Regions from separate parts of the Homo sapiens genome. Here all the other regions are linked to region 1. Evidence: fine-mapped expression QTL. A gene starts in region 1. Each other region holds a variant in brackets. All regions are shown on one strand. Distances are from middle to middle. Region 1 holds the start of HNMT (histamine N-methyltransferase). Region 2 holds the start of LOC107985948 (a long non-coding RNA gene). Region 3 overlaps HNMT (histamine N-methyltransferase).

Region 1 (8,190 bases):
AAGATCACTGGATTGTGAAGAATATACAAAGAAGACAGAGAAGAAAAGAAATAAAGCACAGAGAGGTACCAGAGTAATTGGAGGCAGAGAAAGCCCGTCGTCATGGCAAAAGCAGCAGAGTGTACTACTTAAAAAAGGAAAAATCTCCATCGAATTTGGCAATACGAGTGTCTTTAGTAATGGCAGTTGTAAAAGAAGATTGAAGACTGAAGTCAGATGGCAATGGGATTAAAACTGAGCTCAAAAATGAGGAAGCAGATCTAGAGTCTGTTGAAACAGGGTGAAAGAGAGAAGGAAAAGAGATGACTGCTGTAGGAGAACCATGAAGGGAAAAGGATGGTGTTTGTTTCTTTGGACTTTGGGATGGCAAACAAAACTGTGTTTTGTCTACAGTGCAAAAAGCCTGCTCAGTCACAGGATGGGAACAAAAATTGAAGTAAGGTTCTAAAGGAATCTTGCAAAGTCTAGGGTCGAGAACACCTATAAATGATTTGCCTTCTTCAATTCTAATTATCCTCCAACTCATAATCCTGAGTCCTAACACATCCATTTCTATCTACACCTTTTGTTCATTCTTTAAAATGCTTACATCTATGACAGCATAGGGAGGCTATGAAGCAGAGCACCCAAGTTGAAATCCCAGGTTACTGTTATGTTACCTTGAGCAAGTTATTTGACATCTCTGTGAAATAAGATAATAATATCATCTCTCTTGTAGGATTATTAATAACTGTTTCTAATTCATGGAGAAGTTGTGAGGATTCAATGATTTAATTCATGCAAATCTCTTAGAAATGTATCTGCACATGACAAGCACTCCACATATATTAGCAATTATTATGATTCTAGGTACATGTAAGTGATTTATGTGAATTAACTCTTTGAATCCTTGAAATTCCTCTATGAGTTAGATACTATTATTCATCCCATTTCACATATTATAATGACATCAAATAATTATTGAAAACTTACTATTTTCTAGCCAAGGATTTAAATGTTTTATATGCAACAACAATAACCAACTTTACTATTTATAGTTATTTACTATAATTTTTCCTGCCCCCAAGCCCTGCCCCACCATCTACCCTCAAATAGGGGATTGAAGAATTCCTCTATAGGGAAACAAATCATCTCAGTGATAAAGTTAACATGATTTTATATCTGAGGATCTCCCAGGAAAGAGCTGAGTCCACACTCAATTATTCAGTGAGCTACTCACTCAACAAACCCTGCCCTGACTTACACAAAGAGAATCTGACTACCTTTTAGTGCCTCATTATTTGATTGAATAGAAAACCAAGGCTCTTTAGGTGGTTGGGGAGCTGTCTAACATAAGAAACAGAGATGGAAAGAGGCAGAGAGAGCAGAGGAACATTTTGTAATGAATAAGAAGGTATTACATCTGGGAATGATGAAAAGAATGCTATAGAAAACATTCTTGGAAATTAAAAATATAATAGTAAAAAGTTAATACATGGGCTGAAAGAGGAAAGTTGTAGCAAACTGGAAATATAAGAAAATTAGGTAATCAATCCAGGAAGTATTTGATGAATAAAAGTTCCAGAAAAAGAAAACAGTGGTGAAGAATGATTACCAAAGTTCCGCATAACTGAAGGATCTGAATCTCAATTGAAATAGCCCAGGGAGTACCCATAAAATGGGTAAAAAGGAACCATTTCACAGCTCAGTATTTTAAAATTTCAGAATACTAGACGTAAGAAGATTCTAAAAAGTTCAAAATAGGGAAAACAAAACACATAGCAATGTAAAAGTTATTCCACATGCCAAGGATGAGAATTTTGAGTAGCATTTGATTTATTTTTTTCTCTTGTTTGAGACAGGTTCTCACTCTGTCATCCAGGCTGAGAGCAGTGTCTCAGCCATATCTCACTGAAGCCTCGATCTCTCGGACTTAAGTGATCTTCCCACTTCAGCGTCTGGAGTAGCATGTGCATGCCGCCTTGTTCAGCTAACTTTTTCACTTTTTTGTAGAGATGGGATCTTGCTATGTTGCCCAGGCTGGTCTCAAACTCCTAGGCTCAAGTAATCCTCCCGCCTCAGCCTCCCGAAGTGCTAGGATTACAGGCGTGAACCAACACATCTGGCCAGTATTTTATTTGTTAACAGCAATTCTGGTATCTAAAAGACAGTGGAAAAGTACCTTTAGATCTATTATACAAAACCATTTTCAGTATAGAGTTCTATATCCAGTCAAACGATTAACATAGAACCAAGGGATTTTTAAACATACAAAGTCTCAAAAAGTTTACCTCTCGTTCACTCTTAAAGTTCTTAAAGAATTGTTCAGGAAACAAAGGACCGAGGAAACAAAGAAAAGAAAGGCATGAGATATAGAATCAGGGAATCAAATAATGGAGAAAGAAAATGATTCTCAGAAAGTGAAATAAATTCCCTCCTTAATAGTTGTATAGCAGGCCAAAGCAGATCTTCCTAAACTGAAAAAAAGAACAGAGGGCTTCAGAAAAGTTGTTCCCTTGGGGTAAAATAAACAGATTCCTTGATATGTTTGCATATATTGAGAGGAGATTAATATATCTGCTTGGGGATCAAAATAGTAATAGGTACATGGAGAACTAAGAAAAGAAACCAAAATCAAGGCAATAGTCAACTCTAGGGAGAACAAAAAGTTGTACGTAAAAGGAAATATAAGCATAGTCGAATATATTGCTCAATTATTAAGAATATGTACATAGGCAAAATAACATAAACACTCAAATTATTTAACCAAAATTTTGACTACATATAGTGACATGATAGGGTGGGAAATATGCATGCTTACTTAGCTATTTTAATACAGCGAAATGAAGAAATAGAACAATAACATGTTATTTTGAATTATGAAAGAAAATTCCATAAATAACTAAAAGATTTCAAAGTGCTGAAAGTGGTTGCTTCCGGAGAGTGGGAATCAAGAATGGAGTGGGTGGGGTTTGTTATAGTCCCCACACACTTTAGAACCATTTGATGTTTTAAAATATGGCATGTCTTGCTTTAATAAAAATTTAATAGGCTCGCTCCACACTCAATTAGCACAGTGAGCCACAAACTCAACAAACCCTGCCCTAACATACACAAAGAGTATCCTAATCACATTTTGGTACTTCATAACTTATAGACAACTCTAAGTAACAATTTTAAAAGTCCTTCAGCTAAATCTTATTTCAAACATTACCTTCAGGAAAAAAATAAATGACACTGAATCTGATCATTCCTAACTATATACTACTGTTATAAGACAAACAGTGTGCCCTTAAAAATTCTTCAGTCTTTCACAGATTTTATAATATTTCCAGTTAGATTTAAACTTTGAAGATAAGGAAGGGGTCATTCATCATCGATTATGTTATCTCCATCCACGGTACCTCTTCAAACCAAACTGTGTATGGCTGAAGAAAACCAAGGATCTGGTAAGCTACAGACATGAGCAAATACTTTTAGTACTGAAAAAGAATTGAGAAATTAACTCATTACCTTTAACTTTAGAAATGAGCAAAGAAACCCAAAGAGGTTAACTATAATTAGTTCCTAGGTAAGAAGTTCTCTATATTTGCTATTTGCTTTGATGTTTGCATCCTTATCCTATTACATATTAATTTTTAATATATAATATCCTATTTTTTGAAAGCTAACATTTAAAATCTGAATCATGTTAAATAGAAAAGGAAATAAAATTTTATGTACATCTAATAATGCCTGCTCTGGTCAGACATAGGTACTGCCCTGGTGAAAGAATTTCAGGCCTGCAATAGAGAAATTCAGCAAAAGATAAAATACCACTTTCCTTTGCTGTTTGCAAATTGGATCCATAGTCATTTCTTCCCAGTTTTCCATTATTATTTCCTGAAGTAGAATGAGTTACAGCAAATCACCCCCAGATAGGTGATTTGATTATCTTTAGCATGTGGAATCTGTTACTCTCATAATGCTTATCAGCTCTGGCACAAATTGAACACATTAATCACCCAAAAAAAAGAACTCTGCAAGAAGGATAGGAACCAGTGAGTTTCACTGATAATGGGAAAATGGTTCTTTTTTTAAGGAACACATTGCTAATATTAAGCTGAAAGAAAAAGACAATTTTGAGGAAGAGAGTGATAACTATAACAATGGATAAGGAAAATTAATTTAAATGGATATTATGAGAACTGAGGCACTCAATCCTCAGGGCAAATCGTACTTTGGCAATTATTTATATTTGATTCTAATGAAAAGCATACCAGACTCCCTTTGGGACTTTTTTGGGATGTAAAATTTGGAGGAGGGCTGAAAAATCTGAGTTCGAAGATTAGCATCTTATCTTTTCCCAAATGAACATGGATTTGTGCCTTCAAATGGTTAACGCTTATCTCTATGCAGCTGGAAATACAACACAAATGGGAGCCTTTGAGTGTTCAAAGCAAACGTGGAACCAAAGCACTGCAGGAGAAAGGCAGGGCAGGGCAGCGAGGAGGGGACGACGGGGAGCTGCTATCAGTAATTCGCCCTTATCCCTGTGCCCAGCCTGCGAGGCTGAGCGAGACCCATCTATCACTGACGCACAGCCAGTCTGAGGCTTGTCCCTTTGACAACAACGTCCCTTTTGTTACCTTCCTATTATGCCTGGCAGCTTCTTGTCCATGAATTCCTGCATGCACTGGTGTTCCGTGGAATGGTTGAGAAACCTCCGGAAAGATTCAACATATTTCCCGTGGTCAGAAAACAAGCTCCTCATGGAAGATGCCATATTTGGTTTTCTGAGAAAGACAGAGCAGGAAGCAAGGTTTAAGTTCCCCTCCTTCTCTTCCCAGTTCCCTCTTTCTTTCCCCACCCCCACCAGTTTCTATCCAAAAAAAAAAAAAAAAATGCTAAGCTTGTTTTGAATTTAACATGCCACAAAGGCTGGCTTGTAGAGCTCATTACTGAGTCAATATTTGAACGGGACTTTGCACTGATACTTTAACCCCTATACGGTTGTTTTGTAAGAAATAGAAGTATTAAGCAAGGCTGTAAATCCACTGCTAAAACTTTTCAAATTCCTGAGGTTGAAAGGTCATAAAAACAAACTGTATTCAAATCACTTCCTGTTTTGTCAGCAAAGCCACAAGTAAGTTCCAAGTGGGAAAGTGACTGTTCGAAGTGGCAAACACCAGGATAAAGAGGACAGCTACACAGCACTCTCAGAAATCTACAGCAGTGAAATCTTTAACGGAAGACTGTCATCTGCCTCTGTGCTTTCTACGGGATTGTTTTGGGCCTTTACATTCCTCAGCACTTGAATTTTCAACTTATCTGCTGCATTTCTTCAAATGCTGATTTGTTGTAACTCAGAAATTATCTTAAAAGGAAGTCACGAAGGAGGAGCCCAAGAACTCGTAGCTAGAAGGTGTCAGAAGCTGCATTTAGGGGAATGAGAGTGGTAAGAGAAGTCTTGGAGCAAGAATGCAGGACACCAGGGTAAAAGTGCAGTCCATAGAATCCTTCCCTAAGCGCGCTGAACACGACGAGGTCATAGATACTTCGCTTGGCTGGATGAGCCTTTGGAAACCCAGTGGTGTCCCCACCAGAAGAGCCAAAGCTTCAGAGTACCCACACACAGTCTTTTTCCTGGGAAGAGGTCTTTAAGAAGGTCATCCTTTATCTAATATTGGGTTGTTAATAATAGCATCCAACTCATGGAGGAGTGCTGAGGATCAAATGAGTTAACTCATATAAGTCTCTTAGAAATATGTCTGCTTAAACCGTCCCTTCTTCTAATTGAGTTCCCAAGCTGCCCTCTAAGCATTCAAAACACTTCCCAACTCTCTTTTTTTTTTTGAGACAGAGTATCGCTCTGTCGCCCAGCCTGGAGTGCAATGGTGCGATCTCCACTCACTGCAACCTCCGCTTCCTGGACTCAAGTGATTCTCCTGTCTTAGCCTCCCGAATAACTGGGATTACAGGCACCCGCCACCACGCCTGGCTAATTTTTGTACTTTTAGTAGAGACAGGGTTTCACCATGTTGGCCAGGCTGATCTCGAACTCCTGATCTCAAGTGATCCACCCGCCTCGGCCTCCCAAAGTGCTGGGATTACAGGCGTGAGCCACCATTCCCAGCCCCCAACTCCCTTTTATAAGTATGTTTTGTTCTCACTATTCTTAGAGCCAGTGCTTTTACCCCGGGGGAAAGTGTAATATCTGGACAGGCAGATTGCCATGGATGACTCTGCCCTTAATGAACTGTCTGACTTTGGCTGAAACATAAGCTGCAGTTTGCTCATCAGTAAAATGGGAATGAATTTTATCTTATAGGGTTGTACTGAGAATAATATAACTAATGTTTAAAAAGTGCAAGCCAGTCCCTCTGCAAAAAAAATATATATATATAAAATGACAAAAACAGTCGTCACTTTATTCACGGACATTGAAATTTGAGTTTCATATCATTTTCACATGTCATGAAATATTATCCTTCTTTGAATTTACTTTAACCATATAAAAACATAAAAGTTATTGGTAGCTCATGGGCTGCACAAATCAGGTTGGTAGGGTTGGGTTTGGCCACAGGCCTTATTTGGCCAAGCCCTGATTTAGCTCCTGTGCCCTTCACTCATCCTTAGATAAGGTCTTTGCTGGTTCTTTACTCACATCTCTATCCAACCAGCCTTCCCTTTCCTCAGATGGGCTCTGACAAACTTTTGCTTCTATTACCATCTTCCATTTTTCTCTTTAGAGCTCAACCCAAATCATTCATTCATTCATGTGTAACATCTATCTGTTTTTGTTTCACTTTAACCAAAACCAAAAATGGCCAATAATGTATTCATCTATTGAATAAAAGTTTAGTAAGAGTCTCTGTTTGCTATTCTGCTGAGGAATACTCCTGACATGACTTTCTCTTGGAAAGCTGCTGTTAAGGCCTCCCTTAACTGAAACTTGGTCTTCTGAGACCATCACCTCCCTTGCCTGCTGTCAAATATTCTCCAACAGAGCCAGTTCTTCATGTGGATCCCAGTGAGGACTTCCTTTCCGTCTCCACTGTTTCCACCTTACTTGAGATTCTCTTTATTTTTCACTTATTGTGCTTTTTTTTAAAAAAAAATTAAGTTCAAGAGTACATGCACAGATTTGTTACATAGGTAAACATGTTTTATTGGGGCTTGTTTTACAGATTATGTCACCACCCAGGTATTAAGCCTAGTACCCATTAGTTATTTTTCCTGATTCTCTCCCTCTTCCCACACTCCACCTTCAATAGGCCCCAGTGTGTGTTGTTCCCATCTAATGTTTCCATATTTTCTCATTATTTAGCTCCCACTTATAAGTGATAATATGCAGTATTTGGTTTTCTGTTCCTGCATTAGTTTGCTAAGGATAATGGCCTCCAGTTCCATCCTTGTCCCCACAAAAGACATGATCCCATATTTTTTATGGCTGCATAGTATTCCATGATATACATATGTCACATTTTCTTTGTCCAGACTATCACTGATGAGCATTTAGGTTGATTACATGTCTTTGTTATTGCATATAGTGCTGCAATAAACATTTACATGCATGTGTCTTTATAACAGAACAATTTATATTCCTTTGGGTATGTACCCAGTAATGGGATTGCTGGGTTGAATGGGATTTCTGTCTTTTGGTCTTTGAGGAATCGCCACACTGTCTTCCACAATGGTTGAACTAATTTACACTCTGACCAACAGGGTATAAGTGTTTCCTTTTCTCCACAACCTTGCCAGCACCTGTTATTTTTTTACTTTTTCATAATAGCCACTGTGACTGGTGTGAGATGGTATCTCATTGTAGTTTTTATTTGCATTTCTCTAATGATCAGTGATGTTGAGCTTTTTTTTATATGATTGTTGGCTGCATGTATGTCTTCTTTTGAAAAGTGTCTATTCATGTCCTCTGTCCACTTTTTCATGTCTTTTTTTTATTCTTGTAAATTTGTTTAAGTTCCTTATAGATAATGGATACTAGATCTTTGTCAGGTGCATAGTTTGCAAAAATTTTCTCCCATTCTGTAGGTTATTTATTCTGTTCATAGTTTCTTTTGCTGTGGAGAAGATCCTTAGTGTAATTAGATCTCATTTGTCAACTTTTGCTTTTGTTGCAATTACTTTTGGTGTCTTCGTCATGAAATCTTTGTCCATGTGTATGTCCTGCATGGTATTGCCTAGGTTGTCTTCCAGAGTTTCTATAGTTTT
Region 2 (8,190 bases), 80 kb before region 1:
ACCAATAACAGTTTCACACTGTCATCATCTCCATTGCAGCCTTCCTTCTCTGTAGAAGTCAGAGTTGGTTTCATCTTTGTATTCCCCAAACAAAAATAAGTTGCTTATATGGAGCAGAATTTCAGCAAATATGTGTTGGCTTGAGCTAAATAGTGATTATTATTTTGTCTCATACTCCTGCCCTTTGTTAATTAAGCATAGAGAGGTTAAAGGATTTTAATGGAATACAGAGTTATTGCACCATCTAACTTATTTATTTTTATAAAGGGTTTCTGGAACCACATTGCAAACTTCTTAGGTGTAGGCTACACTTGAGTTGAATGCAGCACCAAAAAGCACTTCCAATCTGTTCTTCCCTTGAAAGATCACTGATGGATGCTGGTGGTATTAGTCTGTTCTCATGCTGCTGATAAAGACATACCTGAGACTGGGTAATTTATAAAGGAAAGAGGTTTAATTGACTCACAGTTCCACATGGCTGGGGAGGCCTCACAATCATAGCTGAAGACAAATGAGGAGCAAAGTCACTTCCTATGTGGTGGCAGGCAAGAGAGCTTGTGTAGGGGAACTCCCCTTTATAAAACCATCAGATCTCATGAGACTTATTCACTATCATGACAATAGCATGAGAAAAACCTGCCCCCATGATTCAATGACCTCCCACCAGGTCCCTCCCAGGACATGTAGGGATTATGGGAGTTACAGTTCAAGATGAGATTTGGGTGAGGACACAGCCAAACTATATTATTGGTCTAGTGAAAAACTGCAGTGCTGGACATTATCAGCCAGATTCTTCAGTGACATTTTTTGGTAATAAAATCCCATTGGCTAAAGAAACTGAAACAGAAGGATTAGAAAGGCAGCTTCTCCATCTTTGGACATGGAAATCAAAGGGGAAGAGGATGGCTAACACTTTTCTAAACTTCTTCCAGGGGATTGATCTAGTTTTATTTCAATTTGGAGAAATAAAGTGTGTCATCAAACTTGCATCCTGAACTTTTACATTTTTGACCATGTTTTTACTGTTAAGGCAGTTATGCATGTGTGCCTATATACACAGATAAGGTCTGGGGAAGACTGTGAAGCTGCAATGGGAAAATACATAACAGTATAAAATATAAGCATAGTGATTTAATCTGTTTGCAGATAATGTCAGCCTTACTTCAAAGCAAGTTCTAGTTGCTATTTAGTCTTCCATTGTCTTGAAGGATCTTTTGGAGGGAAGAATAACAGAATGTTTGACTTAGAAGGAACTTGGAAATTGTACAGCACTTTCATATGATGTAGAAGTATCCTAAAGCCAGTGCAGAAGTGAGACCTGATAATGGTCACATGGAGTAAACAGCACCAGTGAGACTGGAATCGGATGTTTCTGTGCCACTTCGTTCTGATCAAAAGCTACCTATAGTAACTACTCAAAGATAGCATTCTTTGCTTTCTTCCTAAGCATCAGGCATGCTTTATTTCAAGCTGTTTCCTTTGCAAAATTATTACTTTGCAAATATTAGCAGCTATGTTGGAAAACAACACAATTTCAGTGTTCGCTATGATATGAAAGGAGAAGGAAAGCTTTGCAAATATTTTTCTAAATATAAGTAATCCTAACTATGGGGCTAATCATTTTCCTGTCACCTTCATCCTCAATCTTAGTCTAAAAGTATATGCTGTTGAAAAACTTGTTCTGACAAGTACTTTTTTTTTTTTTTTTTTTTTTTGGATAGCAACACTTTTCTTTGCATCTCTTCAACTTTGGGCATCTGCAGGTCCTGCTTTGGCTTTGTTCCTAATTACTATATTATTAGCTGATTTTCATCTATTCTTGGCCATTTAGCCTACGTGGACTTGTTTTTTCTGCCCTACTAATTAGGAGTTGAGCAGTGGGGTAGCCAAAACAAGACTGCCCAGATTCAAGAGATAACCTCATTCAGTATCAATTTTCTCATTTCAACAAACTAGGGCTTCTTACATTTTGATGCATTCGCTTTCAATCCTAATCCGCTATTTAATAAACCTCCCAAATTAACAACCCTGGGTCCATGTGGCTTATCCAAGAGAGCCCTGTGAGCTCCTGTTAATTCAATCTCAGTGGCAGAGTCTGGGCTTGATCTGCTTCCTGAGAAGCTGTATCTAGTTTTAAGCTTCTGTGTTTGGCAGCTTCACTTGGAGAGAATTTACTAATAACTCAGAGTGTAGTTTCCTCTGGGTGCCTCTGAGTGTGTGTAGGTTTTACATACCACAAGAGAATGAAACTATTGATAAAAGTTGAGCTTTACTTCACTAAATAGGAAACTCACGCTGGATGGAAAAGAAACTTAGACTCTTTGAATTGTTCCCATTAAATCTGAAAAGTCCTAATTAATTCTCTTCAGTGGTCTGCATTTCCAACCATTTATGGATTACAGTAGAACAAGGAAAACAGGGCCTATGAAGAACCCCCACATGGTTGAATGCTCATCTGTTGCTGTCTTGAAACTCTAAAAGCTGTAATCTTTGAAGGTATGTTTTGAATGTGCAACCTTGAAGCATGTGGTTGAACAAAGGATGTACATGGAAAAAAGGTAAATGCTTTCCCCTGTAATGACACTGTTGTCCAGCTTTTTGAACAAGGCTCTCCCTTTTTCATCACTGCCCCGAGTAAGAATGAGGAATATATCAGAGTCCCTACTTCAGCATGGCCATTTGTACCCACATATGGCCCTGTAACCTTCTGTCCTGGCTTGCATCCTACTCACACATCACCTTAATGACTCAGGTTCTCTTTTTCTCTCCTTCACTAGCAGTTGTTTAAAACTATTTATTTAGCACTCGCTCTATGCCAAACACCATACCCAGCACTTCACCCACATCGCTCATGGAATCACCATAGTGGCTCTCTGGGATCAGTGTTCTCATTATTCCCATTTTATAGGTGAGGAAATTGGAATTTAGGTTAATAACTTGTCCTGAGTCACATGGTAAATGTTCGAATGAGGATCTGTTAGGGTTTGAATCCTGACAGATTAAAGTCAGAGCCAACGCCCTAGAAACATGAATACAGGAAAAACAACATTTTAAAAAATGCCCAACTCAAGAATATGATCTGAATATTACACCCTAATTAATCCACTCCATGATTTCATCAGTGGTCTTTTAACATTTTATTGATTTATTTTTGCTTTTTTAAAAAAGTGTCTTCAATATAGTAGTATATTAGATTGTGATCTACTAAAATCCATCTTAACGAGGCATCAATGAGGGAATGACAGCTGTGATAATAGTAATAATAATGACCATCTACTTTCTCTCATTTCATTTTCGTTATTTAAAAAAGGAGTAGCTGAGTAACCTGTTTTTCTGCTTAAGGTCCTTAGGTCAAAATTGCACTTTCATTCACTTTTTATTATATTTATTTCCTGATCTCTCTTTCTGTCTCTCTTTCTCAATCTGAGACTAGGTTTAGAAAAATGTGTGTGGTACAAGTGGCAAGTTCAAAATCTGTAGGTTTCAATTTCTAGAACCTGATTCCTTAAAAGGACATGTGGCCTCCATACCAAACCTGCAAATATTTCCAAAAACTCCTCTTTGTATAATTCACCATTTATGTCCAAGAACAATCCAAAAGCCTTGCTGCAAGACACTCTCTCCCTTGACTGCCACGTGGGTCACTGCAAATCCTGATCTTAGATGATATTTCAGTCTGAAAAGAGGGAGAGTGGTTCACTTTCATGTCATTCCTCATCTTCTTCTATGGCTACTAAGTCAAAATCACATTGATACACATTTTATAATGTTTTCCCCAAAATCCATGTGTTAAAGCTCTAACTCACAGTG[T/A]CTTACTGTTAGAATGTGACTGCATTTGGATATAGGGCCTTTAAAGAGGTTATTAAGTTAAAATGACAGCATTAGGATGTGCCTTATTCCAATAAGACTGGTGTTTTTAGAAGAAGAGGAGATTCAGCACACAGACACACCAGGGATGTGCGTGCACAGAGGGACGACCATGTGAAAAGACAGCAAGAGGACAGCCACCTGGATGCCAAGGAGAGAGGCCTCAGAGGAAACCTACCCTGCTGCCATCTTGGTCTTGAACTTGCAGGCTCCAGAACTGTTAGAAAACAAATTTCTTGTTTTTTTGTTTGTTTGTTTGTTTGTTTTGAGATGGAGTCTCACTCTGTCACCCAGGCTGGAGTGCAGTGATGCGATCTCAGCTCACTGCAACCTCTGCCCCCTGTGTTCAAGTGATTCTCCTGCCTCAGCCTCTCAAATAGCTGGGATTACAGGCGCCTGCCACCATGCCTGGCTAATTTTTGTATTTTTAGTAGAGATGCGGTTTCATCATCTTGGCCAGACTGGTCTTGAACTCCTAACCTTGTGATCCACTCACCTTGGCCTCCCAAACTGCTGGGATTACAGGCATGAGCCACCACACCCGGCCACATTTCTGTTCTTAAACCACCCTGCCTGTGGTATTATGTTACAGCAGGCTTAGCTGACTAATACAGGATTCTTCTCATTTGCAGGCAAACACATTCTTAAACTGCTCACCTTGTTCCCTGTCCCTTCCAGCCATTGTCTACTATTTTGAACCCTTCTTCACGGTCAACTTCCTAAATCATTTATGTAGTCATCCTTGACTTTTTCCATCACTCATACTTAACATCCAGTTTATTAGTAAATTACACTACCTTTAGCTTTAAAATATTTTCAGATTTTGATTTTTTCTCACCATTTGACTACTACCATCTGGTGCAAGCTGCTATTATCTCTTACCTGGATGACAACGATAGTCCCCAATGGCTCTCTCTGCTTCTACCTGGTCCACCTTGCAGCAGCTTCTGATGAAAACCTACTAATTACCTTGCAACTTAGAGGGAAAGACTGTCTTTGAAAAAAGATTTCTAAAGCCAGACATGGTCTACTCTACCACCCCCTTTCACCACGCTGACCTCACCTACTACCCCTTTTTACTTCATGCATTCTACTCAAGCCACACTGGGTGTTCATTGTTGTTTCTTATCAATGCTATTCATGAAGCCACTTCAGGTCTCTTGTATGTACTGCCTCTTCTGCCTGGAATGTACTCTTCCCAGATTTTTATATATATATATACTTTAAGTTCTAGGGTAAACATGCACAACGTGCAGGTTTGTTACATATGTATACATGTGCCATGTTGGTTTGCTGCACCCATCAACTCGTCATTTACATTAGGTATTTCTCCCAATGCTATCCCTCTCCCATCCCCCACCCGCCGACAGGCCCCAGTGTGTGATGTTCCCCGCCTTGTGTCCAAGTGTTCTCATTGTTCAGTTTCCACCTAGGAGTGAGAAAATGTGGTGTTTGGTTTTCTGTCCTTGCGATAGTTTGCTCAGAATGATAGTTTCCAGCTTCATCCATGTCTCTGCAAAGGACATGAGCGCATCCTTTTTTATGGCTGCATAGTATTCCATGGTGTACATGTGCCACATTTTCTTAATCCAGTCTATCATTGATGAACATTTGAGTTGGTTCCAAGTCTTTGCTATTGTCTTCACAGATACTTTCATGGGGCATGCTCTCTCTCATTTTCTATAGGTCTGTGCTCCGACACCTCATCATGAGAGAGGACTTCCCTAGCCAACTTCTCTGACCTCCCTAGGTAAGACAACAACCATATCCACTCAGCACTCCTTTAAGTCCCTTTAAGTCTGGCTTAATGCTGCATTATTCTTTCCAGCTGACATATCACATATTTATTTGTATGTCTATTGTCTTTCTTCCCTCTACAACAGAAGTAACTTGAGACACTGTCAATTGACTGCTCAGTCCCAGCATCTGTAGCAGTGCCTGGAATGTAGTAGGTCTCAATAATTCTTTCCTGAAAAATAGCTCCACTTTATTATTTCCCCTTTATTCTCAAATTTATTCCAAACTGGTTTTTCCTCTTGTCTTCTGAATTTTCTCTTATCAGGGTCTTCAATGACCTCTGTTCTGCTAAACCCTCAACTAACTTTACCTCTCAGATGGTTTTGACAGAATAAAAAATGACCCTCCTTTTGAATCACTCTCTCTTCCTAACATCTGTGATTTTTCTTCTGTGCCGCTGGCCAATCCTCACTTTCTCCTCCTTTATGCAAACCTGAAGCTGTGCAGTTCTTCAGAGATCTCACCAGAGTCCTCCTCTCTTCTCACACTTCAGTTTCTCTCCAGGTGATCTCATCGCCTCCCATGGCTTTAAATACCATGGGATATTAAAGTCAGGAAATCTATTTTCTCACTCAGCATTATCTTCTGAGCTTTAGGCGGATGCTGTCATTAGGAATCTAGGTGTGATGTGTGGAAACTAAGTGGCAAACCTATTTGTCCTTGAGTGTTACTTCCCTCAGAAAACATTTGATTGCTTAACTTGGAAAGCTGGGAGTCTCTTCCCTTTCCCTTACTTCTCAGATTCAATTCACTAGCAAGTCCTGTCCATTCCACTGTTGAACCATACCTTCTGTGTCCGCTGACTTCTCTTCATCTCCTTTATCACAGCCAAACCACCATCATTCCCTACCTGAACCACTGCAACACCCATCTAAATGGTGTTTCTGCTTCTGCTTTTGTCTTCTTTTAATCTGTTCTCTATGCAGTCACCAGTATAATCATATGATCATGCCACTTCCTTGCTTAAAATACTTCAAGTGACCCGCATTGCAATTAGGTTTTTAAGTCCATCACGATCTGGCCTCTAGCTATTTCTTTTGCATGACGTCTCATATCTCCTGCTCCCACTCATCATCCTACACATGCTTGAACTCATAAATAGCTCTTATTTATTGAGCACCTATTATGTACATTGTGGTAGTTATTTAACCTATTTACTGTATCATTTTCACATTATGCAAAACAAGCATTAATGTCCCTAAATTTTAAATGAGAAAGTTGAATTCCAAGGAAATTAATCATGCAACTGAAATCATATTTGTTAAATGGATGAATAAATGAATGAATGAATTTGACCAATACCACACAGTTGGATGTTATAGATATTATTCACCACACAGGTTTATTGGGATGATACACAGGCCAATTTTTCAAAGCATAAAGTACCAAAATATAAATTTTTAAATCATATTACAGTTTGAAGTTTGTGTTAACCTGTATTAAAAAGGCACTCCTGCTGGGTGGGAAATAGACAACTAAAAGGCTGAGTTCTCAACATTAAAGAGCTTATTTTCTCACTAGGCGGGCAGGGCTTACATACATTGAACTCATAAGGAACAATAAAACATGGCATTTAAAAATCCCTGGGCGAACAACTGGAAAAAATCCTGTTTTGCATGCTGTTGCAGAAGGACACAAATAAAGAAAGGGGGCCCCAACCGATCAACACAGTCAACTAAGTTAGCCAATGGAGTGATGCATTGTAGACAGTCTCTGACATACAGTGTAAAAGCCCCTAGAACTTAGCCCTGAGCACATAACCAACAAGAGTGTGTCAAATCTGAGCTTACCAAATAGTACCTAACAAATGAGGTCTCCGCTGACAATATGTGCACCCCACTCCTACAACTGCCCACTCCATTAACCTCCATACCCTTTAACCTGATGTATTCTCTTCCTTCTCACCACCTGACACCATCTAATTATCTGCTTGTCATCTGCTTGTTGTGTCTCTGGTCTGTAACAGGGGCTAGCACTTGGCAGTTGCTGGAGAAATAATGTGTTACCTGCATGAATCATGAAGCACTAGATTGAACTGAATCCAGTCCTTAACTGAGGGACTCAGAGATTAGGATGGTCACTGTAAAAATTATGGATTCTACTGTTACCCCTTCTTGACTGCAAAATACTGCCTAATTTTCTGCTGTCAGTGTTCAGGATAGGTTTCCCTTCCTTCTTAGCACATCTTGTAATAGGGAAAGCTGCAGCCCCATCCACCCATTGTCCCCAGAGAGTATGACCAGAGGCACAGGCCAGGCCCTCTTTAAAGACCCTCTGAGAGCTTCCCTGGGTAACTGTTTGGTGTCTCAGTGGCCTCACTTCCTTTGCTGCTGGCTCCAACCCAGAAGATCACCAGCTCATCTCCAAATGTGCTATTTATGACGATTCATCCAGATACAGCCTTCCAGAACCCAAGGCCCCACACCGGCTCCATTCAGCTGAGACAATGTGCCCAAAAGCTACTGCAGGTTTCACTAAATTATGGAGCAAATGTCAGACTTCCCTCGCATTATCAGACACACATTT
Region 3 (8,190 bases), 37 kb before region 1:
TTAGACCTACTATTGAGATGAAATATATTCTAAGATAAAAAATACATGACTTCTCAATGAATTGTTATTTCCGTCTACAATACTTTTTCTGTATGATTGATGAATATAATCAAGAATAGGCTGCCTACAATGTTGATAACTAAGTTTACTTTGCAATTCTAAATGCAGTTTATAGTGCTTTACTAGCTCAGAGAGAGGTTAGTAGGATGAGTCCAGTTTCCATAAGCCCTTCTAAATGGGAAATGAGACCTCTCCCACATAAATGAGTATTTTTAACTAAATAGAGATAAAAATAGTATATCTAAATGTTCCCTTGCAGGAGAGGTTGTGTACAGGAGCTCTCTATTGCCAAACTTTCACATAAGGTCAAACCCAGGATTACAAGCTATAACCATGCTTGCCATCTTTAAAGCAATTCTTCATATTTAAGAACAAGTCAATTTTGTGACATACGGTGTTAAAGTATGGGGTCTGGTGTAACCTTAGGAAGACAGAGTCTGCTGTGTATCTAAAATCAACCTGTAAGTACTGGTAGAAAATCCATAAAGATTGCTGAATGAAAGAAGTAATAAATACTGTCCTCAACAATGTCAATGTTTCATTATCTAAAAATGTTTACTTGGGTTCTCTGTGTGATACTTACTAAATCCCTGGCAGCAACTGGACATGCTCACATGCCTCCTTGGAAAATAAAACACCAACACAAAACAAAACAAATGAACTGTTTTTGATAGGCATTTGAAAAAACCTATAGCAAGCAGTGTTGATCATGGCTCTAAGAATGCAAGTCAATTAAAAATGATGACATCTGAAATAGTTTAACCTTTATTTATTAATAAACATCATAGAGGGAAAAGAAACACTCAAATGACACGAAGTAGGTAAAATAAATGTTTACTATTTTTAGTCTCATTTAAAATCTTTTGTCAGTTGAATTTAAGCTATATAAAAAGGATTCATATATAGAAGACAAAGACATATTTTCCCAAAAGAAAGAAGTAGACAGATGTTTAATTCCACTATACCTTCTAAATTGAGAACTGTTGTGAATGACTTCCCTAATACTGTGAAAATTAATTGGCTATGATTAGAGGCCAAGGCAAGAATTTCATAATGAAGACAAAATATATAAGCTTCTTTCAAACACAGGAATCCATGCATACGTGTATTATTGCTGTTTTAAAATTCAGGCTGAATGAAAATAACTTACCTGACACAACAATAATGAGCATCTTAGCATTGGTACCTAAGAGACTATGGAAGAATTTCAGGGTAGCTGGGATGTCTTTTACATAATACAGCATCTAGAAAGGAGGAAAAAGAGAAATGAGCTGCTTCTGTATGTTGAAGTCTTTATTGCTTGGGCTAGATACTCCTAGAAAGTTTGATTTTCTAGTTGAGTGAATTTTTACCCAAGAAAACACTTAAGAAATTTAAAGATTAAAGACGTTGCATGAAGACATAGAACAATAATGTGAGAAAATATTTGGGGAAATGGAAAAGTATGGTATTTGTTCGACTAGAGTCAAATGGTTTTAAATTTACTCTTTCTGGCTTCCATAGCACAGACATTTATAGCTGGAGACACTTAGTCACCATTCCACATGGGGACATGAATCCTATGCCTATTCTATAATTCGTGAATTGCAGTTCTTCTGGGAGAAAATGGTTCTGGCACCATAAAAACAGACCCCATTTCATGGAACGTTACTTTACAATTAAGCCCTTTGCACTAGCTTCTCCATATGCTCACAGATGCTTTTTTAAAATCACAGAAAATGTGACAGCCTCTGATGATGACAGATTCTGTAGGAAGTTGGACTAAATAAAGCATGAGGTTATCTGCTTGGTCACAGGGTGTTTAGGGGTCAGGACACCCATTTTTAATAATTCTGGATCAATCTCTAGTGAAGTACAGGCCTTTCCACCCAACACAGAACTTGGACTTAGGCATTGACGTGGGAAATTTTTCCCCATGGCTTGCATCTTTGGACCCCACCCCCATAGACACTTCTTATATCTCATCTTCATCTTTGTTGGACAAGAATTCAATATTCCATATAGCCTGTCCTTAGAGAATTCATTGCACAAAGGAAAAGTACTTTAGCTGTGCCTCTTTCATATGAATGAATGAAATAAAATGGACCTGACCTGTGCATGGCTCATGGTGCCTTAGGGGCCACACTCCACATTTTCCACCACAGGGACCATAGGCAGGTACCCAAATATAGTGAATCAATATGATGGCTAACAATCTACGATATGACCTGGCTAGAAATGTGGAAGTGGGCCATAGAAGATACCTTAAATTTTTCTCAAAGACAGTGAAATTTTCTGAATTGACAGTGAGGTTGTAAAAGTATCATAAGAGTGTGAGGACTATAATGAGTAATAGAGAGGCAGAGACGCTGCACAGAAAAATGGGGCATAGACAGAGATGGAGAGAGAGGAACAGGATAGAGATTCAGAGGGAAACAGAGTTGTTATAAGAAAGAAGGAACAAACATGGAAGTTTTAAGAGAAATAGGAAAGAGAAGCTGATTCCTGAAATCACAATATTTATAACAGAGAAAAGAATGGGATCCAGGGTTAAGCAGAGGGAGTGGTTTTTGATAAGAGGAGGTTTTTGCAATAAGATGGAAGAAGGAGATGATGCACAAATGCAGTTATGTTTGCAAAGTTAGAGGGTAAAAAATGAGTATCTGGCAGTTTCTATTTTCTCTATACATTATGAAGTGAGGTCATTGGCTCAGAACGAATGGTCTGGGAGAGATTGCAGGAGTGGTAAGGAGACAGGGGAGTTATGAAATAGTTATGTGAGGAAGTGGGAACAAAAGCAAGTCTGGTAGAGAAATATCTTGGCATCCTGGACAGTGATAAGTACTACCTGACAGGCAAAAGATTTCATCAGCTAAAGAAGCAGAGACATAGAATTGCCTGTATATGACACAATTGGAGTATTTCTTCCTTTGACTTCTTGTAAGTTTATTCTTTTGGGGTGATTATCATTGTAGACCAGGAAGAAAAATAGTGTTTTGTCGTTAATCAAGTGGTATTGCCAAAATACGTACATTTCCCGTTGGTAACCAACTTCCAAAACCCATACATCCCTTATGCTATTCAGAAATGTTAGTTATCTCTGGAAATCCAGCCCCATGCTATCTACTCAATAGTCACTCCCTTTCTTTTATTATTATTATTATTATACTTTAAGTTTTAGGGTACATGTGCACAATGTGCAGGTTAGTTACATATGTATACATGTGCCATGCTGGTGCGCTGCACCCACTAACTCGTCATCTAGCATTAGGTATATCTCCCGATGCTATCCCTCCCCCCTCCCCCCACCCCACAACAGACCCCAGAGTGTGATGTTCCCTTTCCTGTGTCCATGTGTTCTCATTGTTCAATTCCCACCTATGAGTGAGAATATGCGGTGTTTGGTTTTTTGTTCTTGCGTCACTCCCTTTCTATAACATGTATGAGTCAGTTTGTCGGATCTGGATAATGGAAGTAAAAATTTATTGAACTGAGGCATCATTTAACCTGCCCCTTCGACCATATGTCCACTACAGAAACACTCTGGGACATTGGTCCACCCAAACCATTAGAGCCACTAGAGAATATGTTATGATGCTATCATTCTCAAATCTCTATATAAACATCCAATGATATAAAAATAAATTAAAGACTGGGTGCAGTGGCTCACACCTGTAATTCCAACACTTTTGGAGGTTGAAGAGGGAAGATCACTTGAGCCCAGGATTTCAAGACCAGCCTGGGCAACATAGTATGACCCCATCTCTACAAAAAATAAAAAATTAGTTGGGTGTGGTGGTGCACACCTGTGGTCTCAACTAACCAGGAAGCTGCAGTGGGAGAATTGCTTAAGCTCAGGATTTTGAGGCTAGAGTGAGCTAAGATCATGCCACCGCACTCCAGCCTGGATGACACAGCGAGACTCCCATCTCAAAAAAGAAATAAGAATTAAGCCAACATTTTTAAAAATGGATAACTTGTAGAGGTATTTTGATTAGAGAAAACTGGTTTTTGGAATGTTAAAGAGAATCTTAGTATAATAAACATCTTTACCTTTTATTTGGGCAGATCATGGTCACTTGTAAAATTAGAAATCAGAAGATTTTCATTTACCTTTTAAAAATTAGAATAGTAGATATTCATTATATATATA[T/C]TCTGAAAAGTCTTCTTTCTGAGTATATATTATAATACATATTTCTTACTTGAATCATATGAATAAAGTCCCACTTTTGAAGCTCCTTTTTCTCCAACATTCTACTTTGGTATTCAGATGATGTCTCCTTATGCCAAGCAAACTTTACGTTCTCGAGGTTCGATGTCTTGGCTACAAGCTCTAAAATACAGAGAAGAGGTGACACACCATCAATTTTAATTGCAAATGTGGAAACCATTTCCATTTAGAATTTTAATGCAATCAATGTTATATACAAACAGATAGAAAGAACGTTTTTCTTTCTTATGTCTGGGAGACCAGAGAGTTCATACTGCTTTTTTTGGTTTCTAGTATTTAATGAAATTAGAGGTGAAAGAAAGAGTCAGGAAGAAATAATTACAAGAACCCTGGGCAGAATAGGTTATATTGTCTTAGTATTAATGAAGAATCAACTGGTGAATTTTATCAATGGAAAGTGAATTGGAAACAGATATGTTTGTATAATTCAGGAGAAGACAAACTACAGTCCAGGGACTATATCTAGCCTGCTACTTATTTTTGTATGAACCGCAAGCTAAAAACATATATCGTTCTACTTCCTGACTTTGTGTCACTGCCATTCATGTTTCACGTCATTATATTTTTGAATGATTTAAAAAAACAAAAGAAGGATGCTAATTCATATGTGAAAATGATATGAAATTCAAATTTTAGTGTTTACAAATAAAGTTTTATTCAAACACACCCATGCTTGTTAGTTTACCTATTTTTCTTTTTGGCTGCCTTTGTGGCACATGGCAGGTTGATTAGTTATGGCAGAGACTGAATTGACCTTCTGAATCTAAAATATTTACTATTTGGCCTTTGCCAGGAAAAGTTTGTGAACTTTTACTGTAACCCACTAAACATAAGCTCTTTAAGGTTGGTTTAAATAATTCTGGATCAATGAATGAATCTGTACTTAAGCATAAACATCAAAAGGTAATCATTGATGACAACTGGGGAATGGATGAAGTGTTAATAGAAAAGGGAGTTTATTATTCACTGTTCACATTTTGAGATGTTTAGTCATGCCTGCCAAGAACTAATTCAGTTCTTCTCCCAATAAGCTTGTGAAAAGCATACCACAGTAACTATATTTTTAATCATTCAAGGGAACAATTTGAGTTAAGTCTTTTGGGATAGGATCTGGTGTAGAGGACCAGGAGTTACAGGTACCTTTGTATTTGGCAATTTGTTCAGCACTTGGCTCAACAACTTCATTGTTGATACAAACTCCTGGGTATTGAGCCTGAACTTTGGAGAGAATTTGAAGATCAATTTCACCTAGAAGATAAACATATGGGACAGGTCACATCATTCCAGCAAGAAATGATTAAAAACAATTTTAGCTGATTTATTATCTGCCCTACCTTTACTAGGAAAGCCTAACATAAATAAAGAATAATGTTCAACTGCTGCCCTGCCATGATGCAGGGCAGCTAGGTTCTAAGTAGGCATAGTAATGTGACTCAAGGAGGGCTGTGAGTGCCATCCATTCGTTTACATGATCTTTAACATCTATCACTATATTTCATCAAATCAAAGATGCTGTTGATTGTAGAAGGAAATTAACCCTTATTTTTGTTTCACCAAGTTAGAAAAAAGCCACTGTCAATTAAAATTTTAAGATTTTTATCAACTGGAGAGCATAACAATATCAGAGGTATTAAAATACGAAAAAAAAATGCACCTCAGAACTGGCAGAGTAGGCTAGGCCAGAAGAGTACAAAAAAATGTCAGATTAAATAAAGGGTACAAGCATATGTCAGGTAAAATAAAGAAGAAAAACATGTCAGATATCTGCCCTCATAAACACTATTACCTGTTCACAGACACAGAAATAGCCCTGGCTCAGTTGAATCAAGGTAGGAAGAGGGAAGAGAACATATGGGGAGAGGACGAGAGATGATGCCAGAGTGATGATGCTTCATGGGGGAAGATCACTCATGAACTCTGTCACTCCCAGGGTAAGTGGGAGTTAGCCCAGAAACTGTGGGGAAGTGAGGGATTGCAGGTACAGGGGACAAGATGACAGATGCACACACAGAAAATAAAAGAGTATATTTGGAACTACTAGCAGTCTAGATTTCTTAGAATATTGAGCAAGGCAGGACTTCCAAGCAAGAATCCCTGCCCTGGTGAAAATTCAGCCTGTAAGGGTTAGTGTAAGAGAGATGACAATAAGTCAGATGGACTTGAGTTTTAAACCTGTCTTCTTCACTTACTCGGTGTATACGACTTTGGGCAATTTGCTTTACCTCTCCAAGCTTCTTTTTTTTTTTTATTAGAAAAATAAAAATAATAATAGTACTTAATTTATTAGTTGTGAGGGTTAAATGAAGTAATGCATATAATGCACAGTGCAAAATAAAGTTGGCAGTGAATAAATGTTAGCTGTTCATTATTTTTATTGTTATCTTGAGTACATCTATTTGAAAATATCTCTTCTCTCCCTCTTGCTGATGCCTCCAACTTATGTTTTGCACTTTTATTCAGTTAGGTTATGATGTTGACCTTCACTAAAATGGAAATACCTCCTGGCAAGATTAGCATAGGAAAATGATGTTAGTCTTTAACATTTGGCATAAATGACATTAGCAGAAACTTTCCAAGGCTGCACATAGCAGGAAGCAAAAGCAGAGGTCATAAGACTGGGAGGTCTGGAAGGAAAGAGATGAGGAAGATAAACCAGGAACAGAAGATGCTAGACTGGGAAAAGACAGTGGTCCAGGTGCATATGAGAGTCCCAAGTACTGACAATAGGAGATGGCGTACATGGTGTGTGTGGAGGGAAGGAGGGAGAGTGGGAAGGAAGCTGAAATAGAGTATGAAGTCACTTATGTGACAATTTTCTTCACAGCCAGCCCTACCTACTTGAAATCATGTATTTCTTCACTGATGACTATAGCTGCCATTTATTATTGGCCACCTACTATTTGCCAAACACTGTGCTAGGCTTTTTACCTGGAACATCTCATTAATCCTGACAGCAAGTTCCATGATATTATTAATATTCCCAACTGGATTAGGTGATTTGAGTATGTTGACATTCAAGGGATATTGATATACCTGAAGTTTAAGTCACATTTGTCTAAATCTACAATGTTTATTCTTCTAACTCATTCAACTAAGAAGTAGAAAGATCACAAATGCTAAAAAGACATGAAAAGCCTTTTATTCTTCTGTTCAGCAACTATTCTGAAGGGAAAAAAAGACAACTAAGACAAAAGGCTGGTAAGAATAGCTGTGGGCTAATGGGAAATAGATTCCAGCTTGCCCCCAAAAGACTAGAGACCAAAATTTTCTGTTCTTGCCTCATATTAACCTAGCCATACATTTTAAATGAAAAATTATCAATTATGAGGATCTCAAATTCGACATTTTGAAAAAGATAACTGAAATGCAATTATATCCCCTCAGGGCTTGATGAGCTCTCCTCCAAAGATGGACCTTGACATTTCAGGTTGGCCTGGTTGGCAAAATATATCTAGCACAGTCTGGGACATGTTCAGAGCCAGGCAGTCCCTCTCCCTGGGGCACTGATAGAGGACACAATGCTAGAATCACAATTGACATATGGAAACCATTGGTTTGCATAACAGCCTCTAGAGTATAAGCTCATGTGTGCTGGATTCCTGACAAAAATAAATTAAGTTTAAGAAGAGGTGATAATGCAACTATTTCCTTAAGAGTCAATTAGAACGTAAAATCTATTTCTGACCTCATAAGTAGGGTGACCATACTTGTTTGTCAGGGACATTTCCATTTTATACCTGTTGACTTAGTGTCCATCTGCTTTCGTTTTTTGGTCCTAACTTGTTCATTTTTAATAAAATATCATTAGCAGAATTTTAGTTTTGGAAGTAGTTTTTAAAAAAGAACATTTCATAAATTTACTAATATGAGAAATTTGTTCAATGCATACAAATTTCAAAAATTATAATAATTTTAATTAT

What was found. PIP is the estimated chance that this variant, and not a neighbour inherited with it, causes the effect.
Region 2: its variant is fine-mapped to the expression of HNMT in whole blood (INTERVAL, PIP 0.93).
Region 3: its variant is fine-mapped to the expression of HNMT in whole blood (INTERVAL, PIP above 0.99).

Annotation. Positions count from the first base shown.
Region 1 is chr2:137,961,046-137,969,235 of GRCh38, reverse strand. It overlaps HNMT (histamine N-methyltransferase), which reads right to left and starts at 4,763. Exons shown (of 6, transcript NM_006895.3): 1 at 4,608-4,763. The coding sequence starts at 4,744.
Region 2 is chr2:138,040,990-138,049,179 of GRCh38, reverse strand. LOC107985948 (a long non-coding RNA gene) reads left to right here and starts at 5,442. Exons shown (of 3, transcript XR_001739719.2): 1 at 5,442-5,617. It overlaps LOC105373636 (a long non-coding RNA gene), which reads left to right. Exons shown (of 3, transcript XR_923367.2): 3 at 2,370-3,700. The variant T/A (reference allele first, on the strand shown) is at 3,811.
Region 3 is chr2:137,998,246-138,006,435 of GRCh38, reverse strand. It overlaps HNMT (histamine N-methyltransferase), which reads right to left. Exons shown (of 6, transcript NM_006895.3): 3 at 5,411-5,518; 4 at 4,242-4,372; 5 at 1,211-1,304. It overlaps LOC107985948 (a long non-coding RNA gene), which reads left to right. Exons shown (of 3, transcript XR_001739719.2): 3 at 1-590. Among named protein-coding and RNA genes, the nearest start is that of HNMT, 38 kb to the right of the region's middle. The variant T/C (reference allele first, on the strand shown) is at 4,193.